Linked DNA regions of Homo sapiens. The protein of the gene in region 1 interacts with the protein of each later gene in a pairwise test. Each region holds a gene or a part of one and is shown in the gene's direction. Other genes may lie near its edges. The genes, in order: FAM90A1, ZNF212, GCSAML, SPRED1, RPRD1A, BANP and MAD1L1.

What was found.
Region 2: the proteins of FAM90A1 (region 1) and ZNF212 interact in binary tests that used the Homo sapiens proteins (3 or more experiments, as listed by UniProt).
Region 3: the proteins of FAM90A1 (region 1) and GCSAML interact in binary tests that used the Homo sapiens proteins (3 or more experiments, as listed by UniProt).
Region 4: the proteins of FAM90A1 (region 1) and SPRED1 interact in binary tests that used the Homo sapiens proteins (3 or more experiments, as listed by UniProt).
Region 5: the proteins of FAM90A1 (region 1) and RPRD1A interact in binary tests that used the Homo sapiens proteins (3 or more experiments, as listed by UniProt).
Region 6: the proteins of FAM90A1 (region 1) and BANP interact in binary tests that used the Homo sapiens proteins (3 or more experiments, as listed by UniProt).
Region 7: the proteins of FAM90A1 (region 1) and MAD1L1 interact in binary tests that used the Homo sapiens proteins (3 or more experiments, as listed by UniProt).

The regions. Positions count from the first base shown.
Region 1 is NC_000012.12:8,224,819-8,229,750, reverse strand, and holds the start of FAM90A1 (protein FAM90A1), read left to right. Parts: upstream 1-2,132; 5' UTR 2,133-2,271; intron 2,272-3,272; 5' UTR 3,273-3,479; intron 3,480-3,736; exon of another isoform or gene 3,737-3,758; 5' UTR 3,759-3,915; intron 3,916-4,862; 5' UTR 4,863-4,918; coding exon 4,919-4,932.
Region 2 is NC_000007.14:149,242,243-149,246,621, forward strand, and holds part of ZNF212 (zinc finger protein 212), read left to right. Parts: intron 1-4,379.
Region 3 is NC_000001.11:247,551,522-247,555,900, forward strand, and holds part of GCSAML (germinal center-associated signaling and motility-like protein), read left to right. Parts: intron 1-4,379.
Region 4 is NC_000015.10:38,321,681-38,326,059, forward strand, and holds part of SPRED1 (sprouty-related, EVH1 domain-containing protein 1), read left to right. Parts: intron 1-560; coding exon 561-729; intron 730-3,082; coding exon 3,083-3,129; intron 3,130-4,379. UniProt on the Homo sapiens protein: Tyrosine kinase substrate that inhibits growth-factor-mediated activation of MAP kinase. Negatively regulates hematopoiesis of bone marrow.
Region 5 is NC_000018.10:36,029,179-36,033,557, reverse strand, and holds part of RPRD1A (regulation of nuclear pre-mRNA domain-containing protein 1A), read left to right. Parts: intron 1-2,460; coding exon 2,461-2,567; intron 2,568-2,652; coding exon 2,653-2,750; intron 2,751-4,379. UniProt on the Homo sapiens protein: Interacts with phosphorylated C-terminal heptapeptide repeat domain (CTD) of the largest RNA polymerase II subunit POLR2A, and participates in dephosphorylation of the CTD by RPAP2.
Region 6 is NC_000016.10:88,031,175-88,035,553, forward strand, and holds part of BANP (protein BANP), read left to right. Parts: intron 1-1,934; coding exon 1,935-2,071; intron 2,072-4,148; coding exon 4,149-4,220; intron 4,221-4,379. UniProt on the Homo sapiens protein: Controls V(D)J recombination during T-cell development by repressing T-cell receptor (TCR) beta enhancer function. Binds to scaffold/matrix attachment region beta (S/MARbeta), an ATC-rich DNA sequence located upstream of the TCR beta enhancer.
Region 7 is NC_000007.14:2,219,155-2,223,533, reverse strand, and holds part of MAD1L1 (mitotic spindle assembly checkpoint protein MAD1), read left to right. Parts: intron 1-779; coding exon 780-959; intron 960-2,511; coding exon of another isoform or gene 2,512-2,650; intron 2,651-4,077; coding exon 4,078-4,202; intron 4,203-4,379. UniProt on the Homo sapiens protein: Component of the spindle-assembly checkpoint that prevents the onset of anaphase until all chromosomes are properly aligned at the metaphase plate.

The DNA.
Region 1 (4,932 bases):
GGAAGCAACTACTTCAGTGAGGCTCAGCCCAGCCACAGCAACCGCAGGGCTCCTCCTCGTGGCCTCCAGTGTGTGCTGGACTGACCGAGGGGCAGGGCCTCACTGTGGGCAGCTCACTCTGCACTGCTTCCCCCTCAGTGGTGGATCTGTGAAGCTATCCCCAGAAAGATTGGGGTTCTGCTCCTACCACTTGAAGTTCACGGCACACGCAGGCAAACAGCACCTGAACATGTCCACCACCTTCATGGGCAGGTCCAGGCCACTGGAGGATGTGTCCAGAGAGACACCCAGGTCCACTAACCCTGCTAGGCAAGAGGGGTGGGTCAGAGCGCTGGTCTCTGCCCTGGGAACACAAATCCTCCCAGCACAGTGAGACAACTTCCCCCGAGGGGAGTGAAAATTGGATAAGGTCCCCGACAACCCCAAGCACAAGTGGCTTAAGGTGGCCAAGCAGCCACACGGCCTGGGTGGGACATCTGAAAATGTAAGTTGACACTTTTTCTACATAGCCACAATTTGTTTTTTGTTGTTGTTGTTTTGTTTTGTTTTGAGACAGAGTGTCACTCTGTCACCCAGGCTGGAGTGCAGTGGCACAATCTCAGCTCCCTGCAACCTTCACCTCCCAGGTTCACCTCCCGCCTGTAATCCCAGCATTTTGGGAGGCCAAGGCGGGTGGATCACCTGAGGTCAGGAGTTCAAGACCAGCCCGGCCAACATGGTGAAACCCCATCTCTACTAAAAAAAAATACAAAATTAGCGAAGCTAATTCGTGGCAGGTGCCTGTAATCCCAGCTACTCAGGAGGCTGAGGCAGGAGAATCGCTTGAACCCGGGAAGGCAGAGGTTGCAGTGAGCCAAGATCGCGCCATTGCACTCCAGCCTGGGCTACAAGAGCGAAACTCCGTCTCAAAATAATAATAATAATAATAATAATAATAATAATAATAATAATAACAAGAGCGAAACTCCGTCTCAAAATAATAATAATAATAATAATAATAATAATAAACCACATCACACCCACCACAAACCAGCTGTCAGTGTGAAAATAAAGCCAAATAGCTTAACATTTCTAAAGACTAGCTGGGGCTAGGCATGATGGGTCAGGCCTGGAATCTCAGCACTTAGGGAGGCCAAGGCGAGAGGATCACTTGAGGTCAGGAGTTCAAGACCAGCCTGGCCAACATGGTGAAACCCTGTCTCTGCTAAAAATACAAAAATAAGCCAGGTGTTGTGGCGGGCTCCTGTAATCCTGTAATCTACTTGGGAGGCTGAGGTGGGTGAATCGCTTGAACCCAGGAGGCGGAGGTTGCATGAACTGAGATCGTGCACTCCAGCCTAGGCAACGGAGCAAGACTGTCTAAAACAAAGACTAGCTGGAGAATCCTGCCAGGAAAAGGCCCTCAGACTCCAACTGCTCTGCTCACTCGAAGCTGGAAGATGCGGCTCTAGAGACGCATCAGGACCAAGCCACGACTCCCCACTTGGAGAAATCAACGCGGAAAGAGACGGAGGCAAAGGAGAACCATCGCACTGGGAGAGGCGACGCTGTTTGACACATCGTCCCTGTACCTCCCAAAGCCACTGCCCTCCCACACCTGGGCAACAGTGGCCCCAACCCCAGGCCCAGCCCTCCTGCAGGAAGGAAGAGGACTGAATGGAGGGCGTGGCAGACTGAAAGGACGTGGCCTCCTCAAACCCCTTGGTAAAGGGCCTCTGGGGCCACCTGGCAGGGAGGGGCTGGCACACCAGGAAGTAGCCTCCTCCCGGGAGTTCAGCTAGAGCCCAGGTCCTGTCCCCAAGTGGCCTCCAGAGCCACCTTTTCTGAAAAAAGTACATCCTGCCCACCCCTGTTCCCCCTGCTTAAGGCCCCGCGTCCTCCCTGAGCCTCCTGCTGGCCTCTCACCTAGAAGCGGGGGTAGTCCTCGGCCCTCCAGCCAGGGGGTGCAGACCTGGATGTGCTGGAAATGCTTCTGGTGGATGAGGCGGCTGTAATACTCCCTCAGAGGCCCTTTGCCTTCACAGAGAAAAGCAGACACTGCCATGGACCCGTCTCTCTCCGTGCCACGTGGCCCCAGGCCCAAGACACTCCCCCTAGGAGGGATCCTTTTCCCAGAAGCTCCACCCCTCGGCAGCTCCAGTCAGGCCCCATCCGGGCCCTTCCAGAAGCAACCCAGGAGCCCCGAGACCTGCAGGGATGTGTGCACCCTGACCCCTGACGCATAGCCCTGCACCTGCAGCCAGCTGGCCTCGGGCTTGAAAACATGGCGGGGTAAGCACTGGCCTGGCACCCGACCGCCCACTGGGTGGACCCAGCCTTCTGTCTGTGTTGTGCGCAGGGGACACGAGGACTCCCGCTGCCCTGACACAGCCCCCAGATCACATGGCGCAGGTTCCAAGCCGCCCCTGCCCTGCCACAGCCCCCAGAGCACACGGCGCAGGTTCCAAACCACTCCTGGGAGCCTAGAGGCCAAAGGAGGGAGGAGAGCAGGACCAGCAGCTGGCCCAGACCCCGCCTCTTCCCACACCGCTTCTGCTTTTCCCCCTCCTCACTGAGTCATCTTGAAAGGGCTCAGCAGCAGTAACTGAGGGACAGGGGCTCTTCCGTTTGAAAAATTAAAAGAGGCTTGGTTAAGGCAACAATGACATGACCGGGCACAATGGCTCATATCAATAATTCCAGCATATTGGGAGGCCAAGGCAGGTGGATCACCTGAGGTCAGGAGTTCAAGACCAGCCTGGCCAACATGGTGAAACCCTGTTTCTACTAAAAATACCAAAATAAGCTGGGTGTAGTGGGCACCTGTAGTCCCAGCTACTCGGGAGGCTGAGGCATGAGAATTGCTTGACTGTGAGACGCGGAGGTTGCAGTGAGCTGAGATCACACCACTGCACCCCAGCCTGGGCGACAGAGACTGTGTCTCAAAAAAAAAAAAAAAAAAAAAAAAAGACATCAATGAAGAAACAAGAAAAAAAAAAAGATGCTTGGAAACTACTGAAAAATTAGAAAGCTTGGTATGTACAGATTCACATCTGGGCTCCCTGCCCTGCTGTGAAACCCTCTGAGCTTCAGTTTCCCACATGTAAAGCAGTATAAGACCCTATGGCAGAGAGCTGCAGTGGGGATTAAGGAGACAAGATCGTGGGAAGCACAAGGTAAAGGCGGCGTGCCCCTCCCTGGACTCCAATGCCTGGAGTCTCAAGACCAGCTGAAAAGGGAGCCAGGCACTGAAGGACAAAGCGGTGTTGACTTTCTTCATCTGTGTTTCCCAGTGCGCTCCAATTCACGGTGGTTTCCAAGCGCATTCTGGAGGAGAAAACACATGAGTGTGTGGTCAGGGTTCTCTGCTGACAGACCTACCGTGGGGAAGAAAGAGAAGCTCTGAAGATGGATCATGGCCGTGACTGCATGTCAAGGAGAATCTCCATGATGACACGGAGGCCTACGTCGAGATAGAGTAAATATGGTCCAATTAAAAGGTGTCTATTTTACCACATTTTTTAAAACAAAACAAAACACAAAAACAAAAAAGATGGAAAAGAAGACAGGGGTACAGGCACCAGTGTTACATATCTGACGGGGAACATCTATTCTTCAAAGCTTGCAGCTGTACACGTAGGTTTTAGAATGTCTGTCAGCAGTGGACATGATCTTAGAGTGGGCTGTGCAGATAGACCTTTCCGAGTCATGTAATTGGATTAAGTTAATTGTAATTAACCTACATGTAACTGATTAGGTTAGGGTACGTTCCACGTCAGGTGACCAGAGGCAGTATAAAAGGCAGCCTGGAAAGCAGAGGTCCCTCTCTGCCCCTTCCTCCGTCTTCCTGGATGCTGCATCGCTTCCAGCGGGGCTGCTCCAGCACCTGCCCATCTCAGCGCCAGCCGGGGAAAGAAAGTAGACGTGTAATTTCAGGTTAGTTTCACTGAACAGTTGTTTGTTTCACGCAATCCCTGAGGGGTGGGGGGGAAAAGAGACAAAGGAGGCCGAAAGAAAGCGATCACACTGGGGCTTGCTGATGCGGTAGGGTGTGCTCTCGTTACTAGTAATTCTTGGAACAGAAAACGAGAAAGCATTTCCGTCTCCATGTGTGGGATAAGACCAAGGTGGGAATGCGAAAAGAAATGTACTGCAGCATGCTGAATTGGTGGGTAAATGGAAAAAGGACTTTGGAAAAAAGGGTGGTTTGCCCTTCAGCCGTGTAAGACATTGATACGATATGGCACTTGTTCACCGTTCGTTTAGATGAATTCGTGTGGCATGCGTAAAATACCAGAAAAATAAATAAAGAGGGGCTGGAGCTAAAGCCAAAAAGATAGAACAGGAAAGACCATCACCTGCTAGTGTGGTAGAGAGGAAGATAACTTCTCTCTATGAATTTGTGTTTGGAAGTTGCCTAATGAAACGGCAAGAGTAGCGATTCAAGTTGTGACAGGAGGCATCCCTTATCCCAGATTTCAAACAGACCTGCCAAAGGGTGACACACGCCATGCCCTGTGGCTTCGATCATTCTGTCGGTCAAGGGAGATAGAGTCATCGTGTCTTCTACCGGAGTGAATCGTGATAGACCTAAGTCCAGTCTCCAGAATCAGTTGTTAGTTTGGGGTTGAAAGCTCAACTCCCCATACCTAGGCCACGGGCCCTGTGGCAGGCGAGGTTTACTCTTGGACTAGGTAATCATGGCAGAGGAACACACAATATCTGAGGATGCACACAGCACATTGTGTTCCACAGATTTGACCGACTGGTGGTGAGGTCTCCTCATGACCACACCGGCAAGGAATTAGCGGGGGGCTTCCTGTGGGTGTGTGAATATCCAATGTGCTTAACCATCGACTTGTGTGTGTTTGTGTGTGTTTCAGGTGACCCGACAATCAACCCCTGAAAAAGGCGGTCATAAAACCCCCAGGAGACGAAGATGATGGCACGTCG
Region 2 (4,379 bases), on another chromosome or scaffold:
AACTCCTGACCTCAGGTGATCCACCTGCCTCGGCCTCCCAAAGTGCTGGGATTACCACTGCATGAGCCACCGCACCCGGCCTAAGGCAGAGGGAATTCTTAAAAGCAACCAAAAAAAAAAAAGACTACCTTGAAATGAAGTACAGCAAAATGAATGGGGGCCAGCTTCTCAACAGCAACCATGGAAGCTAGGCAAAAGTAGAATGATATTGTCAATAGGCTGAAAGAAAGTAACTGTGGTCCCATAGTTTTATATGCAGCAAAAATGTTTCAGAAACAAAGATGTAAAGAAGACATTTTTAGACAAATTAAAAATGACAGTTTGCTACCAATACACTCTTAGAAAAGGAAATTCTAAAAGATATACCTCAGGTAAAATGAAAATTTTCCCAAATAGAAAGTCTGAAAATATGAGAAGATGTGATGATGCATGGAAATGGTTAAATCTAAACAAATAGTGACTTAATAAAACGTAACAATTTCTTGTTGTGTTAAAAACAATTAAAATACATGATGGCATTGATGTAAATATGAGGAAGAGATGATCAGAACTAAAGTGTTTAAAGGGCTTTGTTAAAGGGCCTTCTATGTATGTTTCCCATAATTTCTAGGATACTTGCTAAACAACTCGAAATTGGTCGTATAACTTACAGATCAGAAAGGGGGATAATGGAATAAGAAAAAATTAATGTAAAAGAAGACAAGAAAGTAGAGAAGAAAGATGGGATAAATAGCACAAAAAAGGTAAAAATAAATCAAAGCTAATGAACAATTACAATAAATGTAAATGAATGAAATGTTCAAGTTAAAAGGCATAGATTGTCAGGATGGGGGAAAAATCCAACTAGATGGTTTAAAAGAGTTACAACCGGCTGGGCGTGGTGGCTCACGCCTGTAATCCCAGCACTTTGGGAGGCAAAGTTGGGTGGATCATGAGGTCAGGAAATTGAGACCATCCTGGCTAACACAGTGAAATTCCGTCTCTACTAGAAATACAAAAAATTAGCCAGATGTGATGGTGGGTGCCTGTAGTCCCAGCTTCTTGGGAGGCTGAGGCAGGAGACTGGCGTGAACCCAGGAGGCGGAGGTTGCTGAGGCAGGAAAATCACTTGAACCTGGGAGGCAAAGGTTGCAGTGAGCCAAGATTGCGCCACTGCACTCCAGCCTGGGTGACAGAGTGAGACTCCGTCTCAAAAAAAAAAAAAAAAAAAAAAAAAAGAGAGAGAGAGAGAGATACAACTAAAAGATAAGGATATAGAAACAGTTGAATATAAAAGGTCATGAAAAAATATGCCAAGCAAATACTAATGAAAATAAAGTTGACAAATATATTTAGTATCTTTAGAGATAGAAGGCTCCTACTACTTTTGTAATGGTAAAAGACTCAATTTACCAGCTAGATACAAAATTTCTAAACCTGTATGCACCTAATTACATAGCCTAAAAATATATAAAACAAAACTGACAGAATTGCGAGAAAGATTCACTGTTATAATAGGAGATTTTAATACAACCTTAGTATTTTATCAAATAGAAAAGACTTATAAGGGTGTAGTGCATCCAGTAGAACTTCCCAAGATGATAGAAATGTTCTGCTCTGCACTGTTTAATACAGTGGCCACTAGGCACATGTGGCTTTTGAGCACTTGAAATGTTAGCTAGTATGATTGAGGAACTGAGTTTTAAATTTTATTTATTTATTTTGAGACAGACTCTCACTCTGTCACCCAGGCTGGAGTAGAGTGGTGCAATCTTGGCTCACTGCAACCTTGCAACCTCTGCCTCCCAGTTTCAAGTGATTCTTCTGCCTCAGCCTCCTGAGTATCTGGGATTACAGTCATGTGCCACCACACCCGGCTAATTTTGTATTTTTAGTAGAGACAGGGTTTCATCATGTTGGTCAGGCTGGTCTTGAACTCCTGACCTCAAGTGATCCGGCTGTCTTGGCCTCCCAAAGGGTTGGGGTTACAGGCACGAGCCACTGTGCCCGGCTAATTTTATTTAACCAGCCACATGTGACTAGTGGATATTATATTGGAAGCACAGGTACAGAAATGATTATTTTTATTTTTATTTTTATTTTTTTTCTGAGACAGAGTCTCTCTCTGTTGCCCAGACTGGAGTGCAGTGGTGCGATCTCGGCTCACTGCAAGCTCCGCCTCCCGGGTTCATGCCATTCTCCTGCCTCAGCCTCCCCAGTGGCTGGGACTGCAGGAGCCCGTCACCACGCCCGGCTAATTCTTTTGTATTTTTAGTAGAGATGGGGTTTCACCATGTTAGCCAGGATGGTCGCGATCTCCTGACCTCATGATCCGCCCACCTTGGCCTCCCAAAGGGCTGGAATTATGGGCGTGAGCCACTGCACCTGGCCAGAAATGATTTTTTTAATCCATATATCTATCAGTATATAATATCAAAGTGTAGAGACAAAATGAAAACAAAAGAGAGGAGGCAAAAATAAAAACCTATTGGGAATGAAAATGTGTGCATTCCCATGTCTATTGGTTGATGCTGGTGTGTAGACTGAGATTGTAGGTAAGGCCGTTGAACAGAACACTTCATGCACCCTCTTCATGTGGCTTGGGATTTCTCAAGGGATTCTAGCACCTGGCTGCCTGTGATTTGCCCCACTTGACAGAGAGTGGAGCAGAGACGAACCATCCATGTGCCACCCTCCTTTAACTGCAGATTCACATGCAAAGTAGATGATGATGTCTTAAGCCACTAAATTTGGGGATTATTTGTCATACAGGAGTTGATGGTTGGAATAGATACCTAGGGAAAATGTTAAAACATTGAAAGATATTAAAAATGGAGTCTCAAAAGGCTGGGCATGGTGGCTCATGCCTATAATCCTAGCACTTTGGGAGGCTGAGGCAGGTGGATCATTTGAGGTCAGGAGTTTGAGACCCGCCTGGGCAACATGGTGAAACCCTGTCCCTACTAAAAATACAGAAAAATTAACCAGGAGTGGTGGCACACACCTGTAATCCCAGCTACTTGGGAGGCTGAGGCAGGAGAATCACTTGAACCTGAGACAGAGGTTGCAGTAAGCTGAGATCATGCCACTGCACTCCAGCCTGCAGCCTGGGCGACAGAGCGAGAGACTCCATCTCAGAAAAAAAAAAAAAAAAAGGATTTGCATACTATGTTTATGAATTGAAATTCATCCTAAATGTGTCACTTTTCTGTTGGGTGGGGTGACTCATGCCTGTAATACCAGGACGTATAATCGTGCCACTGCCCTCCAGCCTGGGTGACAGAGTGAGACCGTGTCTTTATTTATTTGAGACAGAATCTCTCTCTGTCACTGGAGGGAAGTGGTGTGATCATGGCTTCCTGCAGCCTCAATCCCCTGGGCTCAAGTGATCTTCCCACCTCAGCTTCCTGAGTGGCTGGAACTATAGGCACCTGTCATCATGCCTGGCTAATTTTATTGTCTTTTTGTAGAGATGGGATTTCACCATCTTGCCCTGGCTGTTCTTGAACTCCTGGGCTCAAGCTGTCCTCCCGCCTCAAGCCTCCCGAAGTGCTGGGATTACAGACTCGAGCCACTGTGCCCAGCCATAGATTCCCCAAGTGGGATTGCTAGGTAAAAGGGTTTTTAATGACTTGAAATTTTTCTTCCCCTAAGAGTGTGTAGTATTTTTCATTCCTTCCAGGAGTGTTATGAGAGTCAGTTTACCACATTATAGTCAGCTCTGAATGTTATTCTTTGTGTCTGTTTCATGTTTGTCAGTCTGATGGGTGAACGTGCTTTCACTTAGTTATATTTGGATTCCTGATTGTAAGGTGGTTGTGTTTTCATTTGTTTATTGACTGCCTGCATTTCCGCTTCCATGAATGATTTACAATCTGCAGTTTTATTTTGGGGTTCTTGACCTTTTTCCACTTCATATTCTGTTTACAAATATTCTCTCCTTGTTTTTAGACTTTGTTTATGTTATCTTTTATTACAGCTAGCATTTTCTCCTACTTTGACATTCTAAGACGTGTTTATTGAGATACCATTTACATACAGTAAAATTTACTCTTTAGGCAGATAGTTCAACAAATTTTGACAAATGTGTAGCCAGCATATTACCAAGATAGAGAATATTTCCATCATCCAAGAAAGTTCCCTCATATCCCTTTATAATCAGTCTTTTTTTTTTTTTTTGAGACGGAGTCTTATTCTGTTGCCCAGGCTGGAGTGCAGTGACGTGATCTCAGCTCACTGCAGGCTCCGCCTGCTGGGTTCACACCATTCTCTCGCCTCAACCTCCCAAGTAGCTGGGACTACAGGCACCTGCCACCACACCTGGCTAATTTTGTTTTTGTATTTTTAGTAGAGATGGGGTTTCACCATGTTAGCCAGGATGGTCTTGATCTCCTGACCTC
Region 3 (4,379 bases), on another chromosome or scaffold:
TATGCTCAGTGAGTATGGAGGAATGACACAGAGAGAAATAGACAATAAGCTCTTAAAATATACCAAAGAAGATGCAGGGGCAAAAGGAAAACTTCCCCTTTGCTCCCTGAAGGTTCTCTGAAATCAGCTGAGAAAAGGCAGATTAATAGGACAAAAGGCAAATTTATTGATCATCGTTTTATGTGACACAGGAACCTCAGAATGAAGACCCAAAGATGCAAAGGAAACTGTCCATTTCTATGCTTAGGTTCAACAAATTTTGGATAGCCATGTGGAAATATGATTGGACAAAAAGGATATGACCTAATGCTAATAGACAGAGTGGAAAATCCCAGCAAGTCTTGTTCTGTCTGTTTAGATTCTTCTCGACCTCTCTGTACAGCATTCCTTACTTATGAGTATGGGGCAGAACACTCTCTGGAATGGGGGCTTATGACCTACAGTCAGACAAAGTAGGTCAGATAATGTCTTTATGGCTGGTTCTTACACAGAAAGATACAGGGAAAGTTAGAGTCATCTTACTAATTTTATGGCTGGCTTTGGGGAAAAGAGGTTCTGGTTTCTATCAATCACCTTGGGGAAGAGGGATTCTAATTTCTATGGCTAGCCCTGGGTAGGAAAGAGTTGTCACAGAGAGGAGGGCAGGAGAAAGAGAGCTGCTTCTGAGGCTTTTATTTTGGAGTATCATTTTCTGAGCCCCAACAAAGAGATGGTAAAGAGCTGAAATTCATCAGGAACAACCAAAATGAAGAGGAAATTCAGTGAAAGTAAATGCATTCCCAAGGAGTCACCTTGGTGTGTGTCAGTCATTGGGATCACAGATGTGGTGTGAGAGAAGGCTGGAGAATGGCCTCTAGAACACGGATGCAGAGAGCCTCCTGTTGCTCTGACCCTGCTTGTCAGAGGCCTGTTACCTTGGGCAGTGCCTAATTTGCAGCCTGATAATTGGCTGCAGATGAGTCTGGGGAAGGTAGCTGCTGCTTTCTAGCCCCTGACTAGCAAGAGGGTGAAGTAAATGTAGACATCGCCCATGGGCAGTGTCCATCACATACCCTCTTTAGTCTTTATTTCAAAATTGATTTAGTTCTTTGAAGACTTTATCCTCCCATATAAATTTGTACACAAATTCTGAATTTGTGTATTATATAAAAAGTGCCAGCTTGAATTTGGATTCAGACAACATTGTGAATATAGAGATCTATTTGCAAATTCTTCTATGTTTATGCAGATGTACTATATGTATATATATTTTGAGATGGAGTCTTGCTCTGTCACCCAGGCTGGAGGGCAGTGGCATGATCTCGGCTCACTGCAACCTCCACCTTCCAGGTTCAAGCGATTCTTCTGCCTCAGCCTACCGAGTAGCTGGGACTACAGGCACGCACCACCATGCCCGTCTAAGTTTTGTATTTTTAGTGGAGACGGGGTTTCACCATATTGGCCAGGCTGGTCTTGAACTCCTGACCTTGTGATCTACCTGCCTCGGCCTCCTAAAGTGCTGGGATTACAGGCGTGAGCCACTGCGCCTGGTCTATGCAGATATACTATTAATACACCAATCAAAACAATTATTTATAATTATCTTTATTCAAATCTTCTTTAATGCATTCTGATAGAGCTTTAATTTTTTGTTTTTATTTTATTCTTTGTTAGATAGATTTCTAGATACCATATGCAACAGTAATAAATCTATGAATGACATTTTTTCCTAGCCTGTTATTGTTGGAATGCTATTGAATTTTGCAAGATGACTTTGTATCCACTAGCCTTGTTGAATTTCTCATTTTTTTTCATGGTTTTTTAATCCTACTGGGTTTACATAGTTAATATATCATCTATAAAGTTAAAGATTTTTCTATTCTTTTTTTGTTCCTTACAAGTCTTATAGGTACCTTTATCATGTTTTATAGCATAGTTATGTCAGAATTCTTAGGCATCATTTTCTTGTAACTGATCATAATAATTTTTTTCTAAATTGTTTTCATCAAGGTTGCTGTATATTTTTGACATTTATATTTGGCATTTATGTTTTTGGCATATTGCCTCTATCAAAATAAGGAGATTCTACTTTTTAAAAAAATATGTAGAGATGAGATTTCACTATGTTGCCCGGTCTGGAGTGCAGTGGCTATTCACAGATGCAATCAGAGTGCACTACAGCTTTGAACTCCTGGCCTCAAGTGATCTTCCTGCCTCAGCCTCCCAAGGAGCTGGGATTACAGGCCTGCACCACTGCACCCAGCTCTTCTGAGGGTTTTTATTGTTAATAAGGACCAAACATTATCAAATGCAGTTTTAAACTATTGAGATAACCTCATGATTCTTCTCTTAGGCTTCTAAAGTAGTTAATTATGTTAATAAATATTTTTGCTAATTACCTATCTTTTAATTTCTGGGATAAAACCCATTTGATTGTGATGTGTGCAATTTTACTATAGTTTTAGATTTAGTTAACTTATATTTTATTGAGGATTATTGCATCTATTTTCATGATCGAGTTGGACCTGTGATTTTTAAAAATTTGATTTATTTAATTTGAAATGAAAGTTTACCAATCTCATTAAATGGGTTGGCATCATTTTACATTTCTCTACTTTCTGGAACATCTTATATATGAGAGAGTATATTTGTCACTTGAAGTTTGGTAAATTGTGTACGCAGCTGTGTAAGCTGGATTTTTTTGTTATTGATGTTATTCATGTGTCAGTTTTTATATTTCATTTTTTCCAAGATATTATTCATTTTAAGCCATAATGTTTATTATACATAATTCTTCATCATGCCTGTTTTATGTCTGTAATACTTATTTTGAACTTTCTGTTTTCATTATATTTTTGTCTCCATTCCTTATTTCTTTAGTTGGTCTTTCCAGACTTTTGCTATCTTACTGATATTATTCTTTTCTAAGATTTGGTTCCCTATCATATTTATTTTTACCCACAACTTTCTTGTTTCCTTTTTCTTCTCCCAACTTCTTAAGATAAATGCTTACTTTGTCATTATTAGTCATTTATGTTTTCTTATGAATGTATTTTAGCAAGCTATTTTCTTCACACTTCACTTTATCCTTCAAATAGTCTTGTGTAGCTTGCATTATTATTTTATTCTGTGTTTTTAGAAAGTTCCTTTATGATTCCCTCTTTAACATAAGGATTATTTAGAATATTACTTGTGCCTAGACAGGTACACTTTTGGTTATAGCTTATTGGGTTTTAATTTTACTGCTTGATAGTTGGAGAAATCATGTGCAAATTGTTGATTTTGGGGGATGTTTACTAAGACTTTCTTTGTAGAGTTATGAAGTCATAAGTCAACATCCAACATTTAGAAAGTTTAAAAATAAGAAGAAAAAACACAGAAGGTATAAAAAATTATTCATAATCTTAATTCTTTGGCCAAGATACATCTAAAGCTTAATAAAATACCTATTTTTGAAAACAATAGAGTATTAGTTGATTTATTAATTTGGTCAACAAATTTTTGTACATCACCTATGGCCTGATATTATCTGAATTCCTCTGGATTAAGAAAAACACTTTTTACTTTATTCACAGTAGAATTTAGTATCCAGTTATATTCAGTAATATTAATGGTGTGGAATTCCAATTAGGTCCCTACTGATGTTAAATACTTTTCCTGTCTTGTTTTCAACTTTAAAATACAAACATCCTTTAGATGTGTAAGTCAATGAATCACTAATAACCCCAAGGACAATTATTTTACCAAATTCTTTCTTTATTGACCAGTTTAGGAAGATGGAATCGTGAGAAAACTAGACTCCAGGAAAAGGGGAAAAAAGGAGACAGTTAAATTACTTTTTACCTGATTTACAATCTACACTATTAAATAAACATTACATCCAGATTTGACTGTGATCGTGACTATTATACAAAATCTCTACATCAGCAACTGATTCTATAAAAAGCCCCCACCTCTGTAAATTGATATTCCTTTATATTTAACAAATATATTCTTTGCTTAGTGGCTTTGTGTGTTGATATCTAGCAATGTTTCTTGAACATATACATATGACCTCTATTCAGGGAAGGCACTTTCTCAGCGTTGGTTCGAAATGCTTTCCCCGAATACTGCTGGTAAGCAGAAGTGAGGCTCTTATATGCAAAGCTACCTAGAAGCAGAAGGATAGACCAGTGCTGCAGAAGTGACAATAGAGGAAAAGAAAACCATCAAGGAAATGCTATGTGTGGACAACTGGTGGAGTAGAAAGTTTGATTAACCAAGTCACAAACATAAGCTGCTAACTATTGTGTTAACCACGCAAATCACCTGATTTCTCTAACTTCGTCATTTAGTGTTTGCCTGATTATCATAAAGATGATGATAATTGATGGCAAAACACCAAGAGTAATATGAAAAAG
Region 4 (4,379 bases), on another chromosome or scaffold:
CCTCCTGGGCTCAGACGATTCTCCTGCCTCAGCCTCCTGAGTAGCTGGGATTACAGGCATGTACCTCCACACCCAGCTAATTTTTTATATTTTTAGTAGAGATGGGGTTTCACCATGTTGGCCACGCTGGTCTCAAACTCCTGATTTCAAGTGATCCGCCCGCCTCGGCCTCCCAAAGTGCTGGGATTACAGGTGTGAGCCACTGCCCCCAGCCAAAAATGACTTTAAAAAGTTAAATTTCTATTATTACCAACCCCCTGCCTGTTTCCTGGAAGTAATTCCTGATATATTCCTCCAGAAATTTTGTATGCAATGGGAGTGTATATATGTGTGTATTCTTAAAATGGGAGTATAATAAGCATCCTGTTTATAATGTGCATTTTTTTATTCCATCTTAATCTCTTTATTGAGTGACTTTGTGAAGTAGACCACTTTATTTAAAATACTAAAAATTATTCATTAAAAAGTAATAGCGTTGTATCACCTCAGTTTGTATTTATGAGCTACATTAGATGCATTTGATATATGTATATTAATTTTTGGTATTTGGCTTTTGTCAGGTGGTTTTGGAATGTATGCTTAAAAAAGACCTCATTTATAATAAGGTCACTCCAACATTTCACCACTGGAAGATTGATGACAAGAAGTTTGGTCTTACGTTTCAAAGTCCTGCTGATGCTAGGGCTTTTGATAGAGGTATCCGAAGAGCTATAGAGGATATTTCTCAAGGTAGGTATTCTTGACTATTTTCTTAATTTATTTATCGGTTATATATAGTAGAGGTTATCTTTCTTAAAGTTGACCCAAAGTAGTTTTCACACTTTAACCATGTCAGCTTTTGTGATATGTGACCAGGCTTTGAAACCTCACAATAGATGAAGATAAAATAATAGATTCCTTAACGTGATTTGTATTTGTCACATCATAGTCTATGTCAATTGCATGTATTATCTTGAAGAGTCCATCAACAGCTGACTTCAGATAATTCAAATGTTTTAAAATAAGAGCTTGAAGGAAGAGGGAATAGAAATGTACAGCTGCGAGAATCCCAGTTGGTATTCTACTTGTGTATGTATGACACCAGTCACATCCTTTTTTTGGGTAATTATATAGAACTTGTAATATTCAAATGTATGTAGACTCTAGTTATTCCATGACAAAAGTCTTTACTTGATTGATTTCATTATTGAGGATTGGCAGAGACCACAAGCTCATCTATTCCTTTGTTATCTTGCCAGTCTATTAAAATTATTAACTCAAAAGCATACAGGTTTTGAAGGGAAGAATAATGTTTTTTCATGTAAGACTGGCTTATGCTTACTTAAACAAAAATCACATTAAAACCCATTTCTTCCCATAAAGGAAGAACTAAGACTTGATTTTTTTTTCTAATTAGGAGGAAAATTATTTCAATTTAACTAACTTTCTATATAAAGTAACTGAAAGTGTGCTAGACTACGTTGTGATTTGTGTTATTTTGAAGATGTCATTTTAATAAGAAAATCTGAAAACATAAACTGTGAGACCAGTCACAGGCAAGAACATGGAAATACATTGTACAAATCTGTTTTGATAGTGCATAAAACTGTAGTTAAGTAATTTATTTAGCTACTTTAAAAGATTAGAATTTGGTAAATGAGTAATTTTTTATTCTGATCCAGAAAAAATTACTATGAAGTAATAGTAGCCATTTTGTCTTTATTGTAAGACCCCATAAATTCTCCTTAGATCAGTGTTCTTAACCTTGGCTACACATTAAAATCACCTGGGAAGCTTTTGAAGCTTAAAATGACTAGTCTGCACTCCAGACCAATTGAATCTATCTGGGGAATAGAGTCGAGTCATCCCTTATTTTTCAAAAACTCCAAGAAAGTTCAAATATGGTGAAGAATTGTTCTCTAGTCAAGGAATTGTAATTTGAATTTGAAGAAAAAAAAATAAGAAACTTAAAAAAAAAAATACATGATGTTCTGTGCCTCATTCCACAGAGATTCTGATATATTTTGGTTTGACGCCATACTCTGGCATCAGTGTATTTTTTGACAATTCCTCAGTTGATTCTAACCTTTAGCCAGGTTTGAAGAACCAGTGCTTTAAAGAGAGAGAAAAATAGTATCCATGGCTGCTGGAATTTATATGATTTAAAGTTTTGAATTACTTTTAAGTTTATGCTCATGTACCATAACAGTATACCTCTTTCACTAGGATCAAACAGATTGGGTTTAATGTTTTAAAAAATGATTTATAAGGAGTAGCTTACAAACTTCTAGGTAGAGTAGACTACAGTACTTAGTCTGCCTTGTTATTTTTGAACATTAAAAAACATTAGCTAGCATTATTATCAGCTGCTATATAGACTTTCAACAATCTCAAATTGCTTTTACTCGACCTTCTGTGACAAAAAGATAAAATATGCTGCTCTTTCCAAAGGGCGCATTTCTTCTTATCTCATGCCTACTCCGTGCTAAGCTGTGCCTCTCAAGGGTAGCATGAACTAAGAGTACTTTGCTAGGACAAATCCTTTCTTATTAATTTATTGAAACTAAAGGTACTCTTAACAGCATGAAAATCTGTACAGAGACGTTGATGCAAAAAAGTCAGTAACAACAATTGGCCATTAACTGTCAATAGTGGATTAAAACTCATTTGTTTTCCATCTTAGCTAAAGCAACTAAAATCCTGGTTATGGGTACTAAATACTGTTTCCTGGGTCAAAGCATTTAGAAAAATTGAATAAATCACATCTTAGCATCACCAGAGCAATGTAATTATAATCTGCCTAGTAATTTTGAGTATTTGGGAGAAACTAGGGGCAGGGGTAGCTAGAGATAGTATACTTTCAGAGAAAACATCTCGTTAGTAAGCAGCTGGAAATTTACCTATAGAGGAGGGAAATAATTACATTATTCTCCATTATTCTAACAGGGGCAAATGCAAGTGGCCAGTACCTTAATTGCCAGGCAGTCCAGAAAGATCTCTGATTAGTCTTCTAAAGTATTATAATGACATAATCAATTAGTCATTAATACTGGACTCTAAGACAAAAATTCTATACTTAATTAACTTTTATCTATTTTCTTAGGATGCCCCGAATCAAAAAATGAAGCTGAAGGGGCAGATGACTTACAAGTAAGTAATGGCTTGGAAGGAATTTGTAAACATAAAGGATGTGGAAGAAATCACTAGCCTTATTCAATAAACTTATCAATTACTAAGAATATTTCTAAGACACTCTATTTGTCAGATTTCTCCAGAAGAAAAGAACCAATACAGGTTGAGCATCCCTCATCTGAAAATTTAAAATCTGAAATGTTCCAAAATCTGAAACTTTTTTTCTTTTTGAGACAAGGTCTTGCTATGTTGCTCAAGCTGGTCTCGAACTCCTGGGCTGAAGCAACCCACCCACCTCCCCACAGTGCTGGGATCATAGGCCTGAGCCACCGTGCCTGGCCCCAAAATCCGAAACTTTTTGAGTATGGACATGACACCTCAAGTAGAAAAAATTTACACTTGACCTCATGTGATGAATCACACTAAAAATGCAGTCAGAATTTTGTTTCATGCACGAAATTATTTAAAATCATGTATAAAATTACCTTCAGCCTGTGTGTTATAAGGTGTATAAACATAAATTTCATCTTTAAATTGGGTACTATCCTTAAGATGTCTTATTATGCACATACAAATATTCTGAAATTTGAAACAGTTCTGGTTCCAAGCATTTCAGATAAGAGATATCAATCTTTATATAGAAAGTAAAGTTTCTGGGGTTTTTTTTTTCTTTTTTAAGGAAGTGGTTCATAAGATTGTGGGCTGGGTTGGCAGAATGGGCAGGCACGCTGAAAATTGGCACAAGTTGATGTTGCAGTCATGAGAAGGCCGAATTCTATTTTCTTCAGAGGACCTCAATCTTTTTTCTTATGCCTTTCAACTAATTGCGTGAGGTCACCCACATTATGGAGGATGCCTAACTGCCATATTAAAAGGACATTCAAGCAACACTGTGTAGATATTCATGTGGTGAGGAACTGAAGCGTTCAGACAATAGCCATATTAGTGAACCACCTTGGAAGCAGGTTATTCAGCTCCAAGCAAGCCTTAATAGATGACCAGTTGTGGCATGTTTTCATTGCAACCTTATGAGGAACCCTGAGCCAAAACCATCTAGTTAAGCTGCTCTTGAATTCCTGGTCAACAGGAATTGTGAAATAATAAATGTTTGTTATTTTAAGCCACTAAATTTGGGAATGATTTTTGACTAATGCAGATTCTGAAGACCTGAAAATGGAGTGCTGCTGTAACAAATACTAAAACATGGGAATGACTTTGGACTCAGGACTCAGACAGTAAATAAAAGCTGGAAGGTCTTTGAGGCGAGT
Region 5 (4,379 bases), on another chromosome or scaffold:
ATAAATGTATTAAATGCCTTCTCTGAAGGAAAAATATTTTTTGAACTGTTGCTAAGGTGGGCCTTTGGAGTACTTGAATTACAGCTTTCCTTTAAGAGACCAGAACCAACTGCTATATTGGAATGAACTTCATTAAAAATGAATGAAGGTATTGAAGTAAAAATTTGTGTGTTTATAAAGCTATCAGTCTTGTAACAAATATTTCCATATACACTTAGTACTGTTTCTATTCTTTTTTTTTTTTTTTTTTTTTTTTTTGAGACAGAGTCTCACTCTCACCCAGGCTGGAGTACAGTGGTGCGATCTTGGCTCACTGCAACCTCTGCCGCTTGGGTTCAAGCGATTCTCCTACTTCAGCCTCGCAAGTAGCTGGAATTACAGGTGCCTGCCACCATGCCTGGCTAATTTTTGTGTTTTTAGTAGAGACAAGGTTTCACCATCTTGGCCAGGCTGGTCTTGAACTCCTGACCTCGTGATCCACCTGCCTCGGCCTCCCAAAGTGCTGGGATTACAAACGTGAGCCACCATGTCTGGCCTGTTTCCATTCTTTACTTGCCCTCTGGGTAATTTTGTACATCGCATGTATTTGGTTATTCTCCACACCGTAATGACTTACAGTTTTATGCTCCAGTCCAGATTTTTTTTTGTTCCAAACCTGTGTGCCCAATTGCCTTTTGACATTTTTACTTGTATGCGTCTCAAACATTTCAGACTCACTGTGTCTGATACAGAACTCATTATGTCCTTGCTTCCCACCGTACTTGTCCCTCCTGTAGGTTTTATACTCTGTGAATGGCAACTCGATCTATCCAGGTGCCTATGCAAGAAATTATGTTACCTTTAAACTCTTCTTTCTCCTTCAGTCCCCATATCTCACATAGTACACATTGACTCGGTTCTTTGGATTTCTTTCCCTTTTAGTTACCATAATGTATTTTCAGTATAATTTTAATGCCCTTTAGTATTGTTTAATTTCTTTAGAAAACTCGACAGAGTTGCAGAGCTGGTCATAATACTTCCTTGCCTTTGAGTGGTTCCCATTTGTTTTAGAGATGAAGTCTAAAGTCCTGAGCAAGACTTAAGGTGTTCCTTCGTGGCACTGCCTATCTCCCCAGACCTCTGTCTCGCATTTATTCCACACAGTCTATAGTCTACAGTTTAAGCTAAATTAACCTTTTTTAGTTCTTTCCGCCTTAAGTCTTCTATATATGTTGCCCCTCCCTAGAATTCAGTAAAATATTTATTGGCTGCATAAATATTTATTATATGCAAAACCCTGAGTAGTAGTGACCAAGACAGTTTTGTTCTACTGGAGCCTACATTTCATTGGATGACAAAGTTAATAAGTAGATAGACAAGTGAATGCATAATGTCAGATGACAAATGCTAGCAAGAAATACAAAGCAGGGAAGGAACTAGATAGTATGAGGGCGCTCAGTTATGTGATGAGATAAAGAACAACTATTTGGGGAAGGTGGCATTTGAACAAAGACTAAAGGAAGGGGTGAAATGAGCCATTTGACTAGGCAGAAAGGATTCTAGGTAGAGAGAATATGTGGCCGAAAAAATGAGATAGCTTATATGCTGGACATGTTTGAGGACCTTAGCAAGGAGATTTGTATGGTACTAGGTATTAGGGAGTGTGTACTGAGGGACTGCCAGAAAGCAGAGCATGTGGGCCTTATGGCCCAGAGTAAGGATTTTGGTTTTATTCTTGATGTGATTGGTAGCTCTTGGAGGATCAAGAGCTGTATAATCTGATTTACATTATTAGGATGCTTTGTACAGAATAGAGTAAAAGAGTAGAGGCTGGGAGAGCGTGAGAAGACTTTACAAAATTCTAAGCAAGAGATAGTAGTGTTTCTGTCTACAGTGATAGCAATGAAGGAGGTAGGAAACAGTTGGGAGTAGTCTGTTTTTCATTTCCCCATATGTCTAGTCTTAAGATCTCAAATTAAATATCATTTCCTTAAATACTCTTCCGGATATCTCTTAAACAGGGCCAGGTCTGTCTTAAGCACTTTGTTCTCTTTTGTGATACTTATAAATAACAACTGCCATAAGCTGCATTTGCATCTCCATGTCAAAGATAGTAACTGGATCAATAAGTATTTGTTGAATAAATTTAAAAAAATAACCTATGAGAAATCTTCCTTAGCCCCATGTCCAGGCCCCATTAGGATAGGAAATCCCTAGCAGCCAGTACTAAAACTTTTACAGTTTAAACTTTTTTTGGTTGTGTAATAATATGTTTATAAAATGTTTACTAGAAGCAAGCAGTGTGTCTAGATCACTTCACTTTTGAGCTGCTGGCCACATAGTGATGCTAAGTAGACATTTGGACAGTTTTTTCCAGGGAATGAATGTCTGATTATATTTAAAGTTACCGTTAACCTTTTCAATAACACTATGCATTGTTACTGTTAACATTTTTCTTTTTTTCTTTTTTTTTTTTTTTAGTGAAACTGATGAAAGTTGTAAGAAGCACCTTGGAAGAGTGTTATCTATTTGGGAAGAAAGGTCTGTTTATGAAAATGATGTATTAGAACAACTTAAACAAGCTCTGTGTAAGTGTAGAATCCTGATCTCTTACCTTGATCTCTTCATTAAAATGTATTCTTTCATTAATACTTAAATGTTCTTTCATTTCAGATGGTGATAAGAAGCCTAGGAAGCGAACTTATGAACAGATAAAGGTGGATGAAAATGAAAACTGTTCCTCTCTGGGATCTCCAAGTGAACCACCACAGGTAGAAATTTTACCCTGTTAAAAGAGTTACAAACTTTTACTTCATGTTGCCACCAAGCTTTATTAATTTCGTTTCACTTCTGTAAATTGATTTCTATTATACTTTTAGGTACAAGAAAGAAGCCACATGAATATCTCTTCCTCATTAACAAATTGCTTATGTTAAATGTAGTATGTTGTATATTGTATATTTTGCATAGAAATCATGTTTTGTATAGAAAGAGGATTTTTAATTGCCAAATATGGTTAGATGTGAGATGTTAGCTATTTAAACTTTTTAAAATAAAACAAAACATGCCTATTTTGTTATGTGATTTTTTTTTTTTGAGACGGAGTTTCACTCTGTCCCCAGGGCTGGAGTTCAGTGGCACTATCTTGGCTCACTGCAACCTCTGCCTCCTGGGTTCAAGCGATTCTCCTGCCTTAGCCTTCCAAATAGCTGAGACTACAGGCACGGGCCACCAAGCCCAGCTAATTTTTGTGTTTAATAGAGATGGGGTTTCACCATGTTGGCCAGGCTGGTCTTGAACTCCTGGCCTCAAGTGATCCTCCCACCTTGGCCTCCCAAAGTGCTGGGATTATAGGCATGAGCCACTGTGCCCGGCTCATGTATGATTTAAATACACTAAAATTTTCATTCTTGGACATAATCACTGCCCCTTTAAGTATTTTTGTTTTTAAATGTAAAAAGTAGTGTTAGAGTGGCCGGGCGCAGTGGCTCACGCCTGTAATCCCAGCACTTTGGGAGGCCAAGGTGGTCGGATCATGAGGTCAGGAGATCGAGACCATCCTGGCTAATATGGTGAAACCCCGTCTCTACTAAAAAATACAAAAAATTAGCTGGGCGTGGTGGCGGGCGCCTGTAGTCCCAGCTACTCGGGAGGCTGAGGCAGGAGAATGGCGTGAACCTGGGAGGCGGAGCTTGCAGTGAACCGAGATAGCACCACTGCACTCCATCCTGGGTGACAGAGCGAGACTCCGTCTCAAAAAAAAAAAAAGTAGTGTTAGAGTGATATATATGTGTTCATACATTTCTTTGTAACTATATAGAACTATGTAATTCTGTGGAAAAATAAGTTAGAATTATTATCTTAACACTCTGTGTCCTCCTACATGTTGGTATGGTATGGTATTCCTTAACCATCAGATTAATTCCAGAAAGACTTTTTTTTTTTTTTTTTTTTAAGTGGGCATTGAGTCTTTAAGCTTCCTCCTTCTATGTTTCAAACATGTAGGCGGGACAGATAAAGTGTAAAATGAGAAAATGAAGACATAACCATACTCTTAAAACAAGGCGAATGTATTTTCATGGGTTAGAAATTGTACACCTAACTTCATAGGTGAGACAAAACCTGGCTCCTGCTGAGCCCTGGTCCCGAAGCAGACATGGGGTTGCCAGAAATTAGTATCCTTTAAGGTCACAGGAACTCACAAGGGCAACAGGAACTCACAGTGCTCCGTGGGAGTTAGAGGACTGGTTCCAAATTCACTGAATAAAATCAGAGGCTGGGAGGAGCTCTTTCCCCCATGAAGGTGAAAGAAAAATACAATCAATTACTACCTGTAACTGTGGATTTATATTAGTCTCAGTACTGGAGAAGCAGAAGGAATCAGACCAAGGCCACGACCT
Region 6 (4,379 bases), on another chromosome or scaffold:
TTTGGGACATGACCCATCACTGGAGGTGCTCAGGTGGAGTCAGGGTCTTTGGCTGGAGCCGAGCTCTCCACATGCAGCATGCAGGTGGGCTTGTTGAATCTCCTTTGAATCTCATGAATTTCAGATTCTGATTTAGTGTAGCTAGGCAATTTCTAGCATATTGCAAGTATCAACATTCTGTTAATGTGACTGGGCACAGTGGCTTACACCTATAATCCCAGCATTTTGGGAGGCTGAGGCAGGCGGATCATTTGAGGTCAGGAGTTCAAAACCAGCCTGGCCAACCTGGTGAAATCCCTTCTCTACAAAAAAATACAAAAAAAAATTAGCCCAGCATGATGGTGGGTGCCTGTAATCCCAGCTACTTGGAAGGCTGAGGCAGGAGAATCGCTTGAACTTGGGAGGCGGAAGTTGCAGTGAGCCAAGGTCATACCACTACACTCCAGCCTGGGTGACAGAGCAAGACTCTCTCTCAAAAAAAAAAAAAAAGAAACCCAACATTTTATTGTTACTTTAAAAAATGTATTCAGTGGAATCTAGGTACTATGGCAATTTAATACCTACCATTAGCTATTGGTAAAAAATACATGGAAAGCTTTTCTCTCCCCTCCCCCGCTCTTGCCCTCCCCTCTCTTGCCCCTCCCCGTCCCTTCCCCCGCTCGCTCTGTTGCCTGGAGCTGAGTGCCATGGTGCCATCTCAGCTCACTGTAACCACCTACTCCCAGGTTCAAGTGGTTCTCCTACTTCAGCCTCCCAAGTAGTTGGGACTACAGACGCGTGCCACCACACCTGGCTAATTTTTGTATTTTTAGTAGAGACGGGGTTCACCATGTTGGTCAGGCTGGTCTCGAACTCCTGACCTGAAGTGATCTTGCCCGCCTTGGCCTCCCAAAGTGCTGGGATTACAGGCGTGAGCCACCGCGCCTGGCCCGCTTCTCTTTAATAATCAATAATTTTATGTCTTTCATTTTTCTCCTTTCATTCATATCAACATTCTACTTCTCTCACAGAATTTCATCTTACTGCTTCCCTCCCCTGTACCCCCGAGATGGAGTCTCGCTCTGTTGCCCAGGCTGGAGTGTAGTGGTGCCATTTCGACTCATTACAACCTCCGCCTCCCAGGTTCAAGTGATTCTCCTGCCTCAGCCTCCTGAGTGCCTGGGATTACAGACCCCCACCACCACGCCTGTCTAATTTTTGTATTTTTAGTAGAGATGGGGTTTCACCATGTTGGCCAGGCTGGTCTTGAACTCGTGACCTCAGGTGATCTACCTGCCTTGGCCTCACAGAGTGCTGGGATTACAGGTGTGAGCCACCGTGTCCGGACTACATTTTTATGCTTAAAAGCTTTTTAAAATTAGTCATTATAATTCTCTGCAACAAAACTACGTGTATACATTGAAAATTAAAAAGTTTTTCTGCGCTCTTAATATTCTGAGAGTTTAAGAAAATTATGATTGAGACATCATTACAGTGAAAATTAATACACAGTACATCAAAGCAAATGTATCTCATTTTGATTAAACACAGCAAGTAAAATTTGTTGGAAATGTATCTTTAAGTGTGCGGATGAGACTTTTGCTCTATTAGTTTAATTACCCATGGACAAATATTGCCAGCCTGAAACAGCTTTTAATGTCCACTTTAAGAACTTCATTCATTTAAATAAGTTGGGGACTAGAAGGGGTTTTGTCATAGCAGCATCACGCCACTCTCAGGCCCTTTTGCATTCCATGTCGGAAGCCTCAGTTCCTAAGACTCACTGGTAGTGATCTCTGCAGAAGAGTGGAGATGCAGTGAGTCGAGGAAAAATGAAGCATTTCCTCTTCTCTGCTGTGGGAGTCGACAGTGGGGGACGGGGGTGCACACATGCCACACCAGGCAATGCCTAAGAAACTTCTCGTTCACCCCGTTCACACCTGTTGCCCCCACAGAGCCGATGATGAGCACCCCACCTCCTGCCAGCGAGCTCCCGCAGCCACAGCCGCAGCCGCAGGCCCTGCACTACGCGCTGGCCAACGCACAGCAGGTGCAGATCCACCAGATCGGAGAAGACGGACAGGTGCAAGTAGTACGTACCCTCTCCACCTCACACCTTGGGAAAGGGGGCTGCGGGGTGGGCCACGGCAGGGCCATGGCGGCTTCCACCGGTTCCGCTGTGTTTTGGGAGCACAGTGATAGCTTGGGAGGAGGCACAAGGTCCCCATTTAAAGTAGAGGTCATCGTGGCCATGAGCTCTTAACATTTCACAGGTGGGGGCGGCTGCTGCAGAGCCTAGGGATTGAAGCACATGGTGGGGTGGGGCATTCAGTCAGCTCACCTCAGTCCTGCCAGCAGGCAGGCGGGCAGTCAGCTCCAAGGGTCAGGCCGTGCGGTGGTCCCTGCCCCAGCTCGTGCTCCTGGGAAACATCGGAAATATTTCTCAGTTCAGAAGTGCAGGCGCTCTCTTACTGAGGGAAAGAGTAATTTCCTTCTAGGATCAGTGGCAAAAGCTTGAGGTCATTGTTCCCATGCAGCGTGTCCCTTGGAGTTACTCAGCACACCCAGGTTGGGCGGGCACTGTCCCAGCAGCAAGTCAATGTCCTGCCTTGCCCGTGCGGAGTTCTCTATTGGGGTTTTGTGACCCAAGCTGTGGTCAGCCTGATGCGCCTAGGGGCTTGCTCCCGGGTGAAGTCCCTCTACAAACACCTCCTGGATTCTGTGGCATGAGAGTAGGGCGTGGCTGAGAAGGAAGGAAGACTTTTCTGGAAGCTTTGCTGAGTGACTAGAAATTTTACATGCACCACTAGACCTCGCCTATGTTTTTAGTGGCACCAGCCCCCTTGGGCCCTCTGAAGACAGGTCATCGTGTGCCTCCGTGTCACCAGGGCTTTCTCCTGGAAACATGGTCCTCCACTATTGAGAGTGGGGCGTGGCTCTCATCTCAGTGTGGCTTCAGCATGCTGTCTGGAAGAGGGAAGGCTTCCGGAAAATTCTGGGGCTTTTAGAGGGGGCGTTACCCTTCCTCTTCCAAAGGAGATGAGACAGTTATGAATAGTGAATCTTATTTAATAAGCTTATTAATTTGTTTGACATTCACAACGGCAGTTCCTCTCATCTTGTTAGTAAGAAGTTCTTTGAAAGCGTTCCAGAGTAGATAACTTTGTCATAAGGCTTACATAGAACATTCTACAGGAGTTTATTTTAAGATCCATTTCGACTAAGAGAGAATTTCAAATAAGATAAGGAGTATTCGTTTCATTTACAGGTTTATAGGAATTATTTGTCTGCCCATATGTATAAACAGTGGATTCTTTGATTTTTTTTGAATCACATTTATTAGTGTTTACTGAAACTGTCTAAATAGTCATATGAGTGTTTCTTTGATTTGAAAAACGTTGCCTGCCCTGTTGTGAGTGTAGGCACGCCAACAGCTCCCCTGCTTCAGCCACACACTGCGTAGCCTCCCAGTATCCCCAGAGAGCTGAACGTATCATTTGAAAAGAGGTGTCATTGTGATTTTCTATTTCCCCTCTTTTCTGTGTGTCATGCACATTTTAAAATTTACTTGTTTAGTAACATTTAAAGATGTAAATATCTTTCCTGGGACCTATTGCTCCTTTGTGAAGTGCTGGAAAATGTTCTGTGTTACACAGCAGCCCCCCCTTACCCATGCTTCCACTTTCCCAGGCTTTAATTACCCATAGTCAACTGTGATCTGAAAATATTAGATGAGAAACTCCAGAAATAAACAATTTGTAAGTTTCAGATTACATACTCTTCTGAGTAGTAGCATGATGAAGTCTGGTCGTCCTGCTCTGTCCAGCCCGGGACGTGAGTCGTTCCTTTGTCCAGCATGTCCAAGCTGTGTGGCACATATGGGCGGGAAAAAGCATAGCATATATGGGGTTCAGCACCATCCACAGTTTCTGGCGTCCACGTGGTGGGGGTAGGGGGTGCTTCTTGAAACCCTCATGGATGAGGGGGACTACTGTGAACCAAAAGCTTAATTTAAAGAAGTGACCACAGACTATATTGCACTATTCAGGATTTAGTTATCTTTTTGAATTGTAAACAGATAATCAAGAACAAACATTCCGGAAGATGTTTCTTGTTTCCTTTGCTTTTGATTTTCTTCTGATGCTTCTTGGTGTCTTTTCTTGCTGCGGATCCCACAGGGACACCTCCACATCGCCCAGGTGCCGCAGGGGGAGCAAGTCCAGATCACGCAGGACAGCGAGGTGAGTCAGCTCTCGCTGCAGCACTGTCCCTGCAGGCACCGTGCCCACATGCTCCCGACCTTCATCGGTGTCACAGTGCGAGGGCAGCAGGGAGCCCCCAGGACAGGGAACGTGGGCAAGGGCTGCAGGACTCCGCTTCCAGGGTGCACATAGCGGGCC
Region 7 (4,379 bases), on another chromosome or scaffold:
CGGGGCTCCGGGAGTGCTTGGTGCTTCCCGAGGAAGGCAGGGTGAGAGGGTCCCGGAGTGCCGGGCTCCACCAGGACTCACCGCCTTCACCTCCTGGGACGCCGGTACCTGGCAGTGAACTCTGGAGGGCCTGCGGGTCATTAGAGTCAGGAGGTCTGAGCGTGGTGCTTGGTCATGTCCCATCCCAACCAGTGAGAGCCACGCGGCCTCCCTAAGGCCAGTCGTGGGGGGTGGGTCTGGAGGTTTGTGGTTTGTGTGAGAGGGGGTGCATGTGTGGCAGATTTGAGCCCAGTGTAAACTGCTTCTGCCCACAGCCTCCTGTCCACGCTGCCTGTCTCTGCCCCTGTTGTCTGCTCGCTGGGGGAGTGCCAGCTCCTTTCAGTGCCGGACAGAGCGTAATTAGACAGGATTTGCTGGTGCTATGAAAGCTCAGCTTCTCCCCAAGGTCAATGCTGAATTTTAGATTTCCCATGCCCCCTCTCCCTGCAGAGGCAACTGCTGAGCAGACGGTGTGATAAATGTGTGTGTGATCTGTGCCAAGTGCCCTTCCTGGGAGCCCTGACCTCGCACAGTGCTCACCGTCATGGTGCCACAGCGGGGGTGCCAACGCTGGGGCTGGGTCCCAGGTCCCGTCCTGGTTCTGCCTATGACTTGGCTCATGGGTCCTGCTCGGCTCTTTTTTGTGCCTCGGCATGTTCTGAGAGAGGTGTGGGGGTGAGGGCTCCCCGCTGACCCTCCCGTGGGCGGCACGTGGCATCTGACTCTTGCTCTCTTAACAGCGTGAGGTCGACCGCAACCAGGAGCTCCTGACGCGCATCCGGCAGCTTCAGGAGCGGGAGGCCGGGGCGGAGGAGAAGATGCAGGAGCAGCTGGAGCGCAACAGGCAGTGTCAGCAGAACTTGGATGCTGCCAGCAAGAGGCTGCGTGAGAAAGAGGACAGTCTGGCCCAGGCTGGCGAGGTGAGCGGGGCCTCTGCTGCGCAGGGAGCTGTTTTCCCGAGGAGAGGGAGTGCATGCTCTTGTTTGCCACTGCAGTGCCCGCTTGTGTTTTCACTTGTGCTTCCCACACGGGCAGCTGCGTTTTGTACATAGTTGTCATCAGTAGAAGTATTAATTTTCCATTCTGTAGTTTTCAGTTAAAAAGTTGAGACTTTGGGCCGGGCGCGGTGGCTCACGCCTGTAATCCCAGCACTTTGGGAGGCCGAGGTGGGTGTATCATCTGAGGTTGGGAGTTGGAGACCAGCCTGACCAACATGGTGAAACCCCATCTCTACTAAAAATACAAAAATTAGCCATGCGTGGTGGTGCGCACCTGTAGTCCCAGCCTGTGGGACTCGGGAGGCTGAGGCAGGAGAATCGCTTGAACCCAGGAGGTGGAGGTTGCAGTGAGCTCAGATCACACCATTGCACTCCAGCCTGGGCAACACAGCAAGACTCTGTCTCAAAAAAAAAAAAAAAAGTTAAGCACTTTTTTGCCTTTGTAATTATGAATTTAAATGGATGATGAATCTGTTTTTTGTTGTTTGTGGACGTTTAGTGTGTTTGTGTTCGCTCATGTATGTATGCGACAGGTAGCCCTTCCCTCAGCCCTCGCTTCTGTTGACTTTGGACAGACCCCTAGGACTGGGTTATAAGGTCCCTAGCGATGGCGGTCTCTGCAGCCGTTGTGCTCAGAGGCCTGGCTGAGGGCTCCAATTTCCCCGTAGCCTTCCCTGTCGTGGATGGTGGTCTTTTCTGGAAATAGCTGTTGTTTTGTCAGGAGGCTTAAGGAGGCACGTCTGGATTTGCATATCTTTGACTGTCTGCAAGGTCTACAGGCATCTGATGGCGTCGGATAATTGCCTCTGAACTGGAGCCTGTGTGAACTGCAGTCCTGGTGAAGGTTGCTTGCATTTTAGAAACAGCCCAGACATGGGCACTGGTGGAAATTGGAATCTTCTGACCTCTCCTGTCCTTTGTCTGTGGCGATCAAGATCGCTGGTGCCAAGAGGAAACATGAAAATCTGCTGGTGTGGGGGTGGAGGCGTGGTAGGGGTGGGGTGGGCGTGCAGCGGGGGTCCTGGAGGGGTCCAGAAACTGGCCGCGGGTCCTTCCTGTGGCCGTGCTGGGGAGGCGTGTTCAGGCTGTTCCCCTATCTGCTTCTGGAGGGAACGTTGGCAGGAGAGGAGGCGTGATTGGCTCCCGAGAAGCTGCTCTTGCCTTGCCCATGCTCTGGGTTCCAGTTCCCATGTGCTGGGCTGTACTGGAGTTGGGCCGGGGGCTGTCCCCGCTGCCTGCGGGCACCTGTGGTTCCATGGGGGAGGGTGAGTCGTGCCGAGCACTTCATGAGGGGCAGAGGAGCAGGAGACTGCAGGAGCCGCAGGGCGGTGCCCGGTGGGGTGGGGCATAGTGAGGGGAAGATGGTGGCGCTGCAGGTGCTGCTGCTTTGGCCTGTCATGTCTAAGCCGAGGTGGCCGCTCCTCAGGGAAGCCCTCCCTGCGCACTAGGCCTTGACTGCCTTCTCCTGTCACAGGGTCCTGATTGTCACGCTCCTTACTCTGGAATTATCTTATGCGCCTCTTCCTTGCCAACTGTCCGGCGTCCCCTACAACACGGGTGACCCTGTGGGCAGGTGGGCTCGGCCCTGCATCTGGCCTTGCCCCTGGCACACGGTGCGTATTAATTGAGTTCGGAAGACCTCTGGGAGGATGTGTTTATTGTTAGTATGTTTTTAATACCTTTCTTCTTTGTTGACTCCCAGGTTGATGCTTCACTGTTGTGGTGAAGTAAACCGTACATATTGTGGGCATGTGGGGAGCACGCAGCCCCCATGCGGGCCTTCCCAGAGCGGCGTGGGGTGGACAGCGGTGATAGGCTTCAGCAGGCCCTAAGCTGGGCACGTTCTCAGGGACAGGGAAATGAGTGCTGAGGCCTCCTTGTTTGCGGAGGGTGCCGCCCAGCCAGGCCCACCCAGGTCGTTTGCTGTGTGAGTTTGCCATTGTCCTGTCCTGGGTGCGTGGTCCCCAGGGCTGACATCACGCCCGTGTGTTTCCGTGTGTTAACTTACAGTGATGCTTCTCAGGGTCTGTCCGGCTTTTCACATTGGCTCGACCCACGTGCTCTTTCTTTCTCTGAGGACACCTGGGGTTTTCTGAGCTTTTCCAGAGGGTTAGGGTCCTCAGAAGGTCGCCTGGTGGGAGTGGTCAGGAGGAAGCCTGGCGGTTCTGTCGCGTGCGGGTTCCATGATGTCAGGCAGACCTGCTGTCCTGGAGGCTGCCAGAGGGGCTGCTGGCTTTGCTCAGGGGCCGCCTCCCCAGGGGCGCTCCTGCCCGTGCCGCGTGCTCCCGTTCCAAGCGCACGGCCTCCCCAGCAGGTACCGCCCTGCCCCTTGCACAGCCTCCGTCTTTGTCCTGTTGGTTGGCCAGTGCCTTGCTGTGGTGTGAGGGCGATGTCGCTAGCAAACAGCCGTCATGGTAGCATTGGGGTGGCTAGGGAGGGATGACAGGAGCCACGGTTGGAGGGAAGACCGAAGTGATGGTGTGGCGGGTATGTGGATGTCTGATGGGACTTTGGGAGCGTGGGGCACTGGCACAGAGACTGCCAGGTGCCAGGCCTGAGAGTCCGGGCCCATCTTGGCTGGTGGAGGCTTTTGCTTCTGAAGCCGCCTCACCAAGCCTCCTTTCCAGGGCCCCTGGCTGGGGCCCGGTCTCCTCTGTCAGCTCCTGGGTGGCTTGTGGCAGGCTCTGGGCTGTGCTGCTCTGGAGCACCAGGAGGAGGGTGGGCCCTGCGTGTGAGCGTCTGCCTGACCTGCATCCTCCAGAAGGAGGTGGCTCTGCCCCCTGGCCCTCTGCTCCCCTGCTCCTCTTCCCCCTGCCCTCTGCCCCCCTTGCCCCCTTGCCATCTGCCCCCCTACCGCTCTGCCCCCCTACCCCTCTGCCCGATGCCCCTCTGCCCCCTTATTCCTCTGCCCCTCTGCCTCCTGCCCTGATTATAGCACGTGGGTGGTGTCGCCTCTCCACTCTTCTCATCTCCATGTGCAGGCTCCTTCCACGCACGGGCTCCACTCACTGAGCGGCTCTCTGGTCCCCTCTACTTTTAGACCATCAACGCACTGAAGGGGAGGATCTCGGAACTGCAGTGGAGCGTGATGGACCAGGAGATGCGGGTGAAGCGCCTGGAGTCGGAGAAGCAGGAGCTGCAGGAGCAGCTGGACCTGCAACACAAGTGGGCGGGGCCAGGGTGTGGGGTCGGGGGTCGGGTCACGTGTGGGGGCATGCGTCCCACCTCTCTCCTGGTGGCTGGGTGGGATGTGGATACACTCCCAGATGCTGTCCTAATTCACAGACACTCAAGAGGGGCAGATGCTGAGGCCTCTGGAGCCAGGACCGTGAGCCCAGAAAG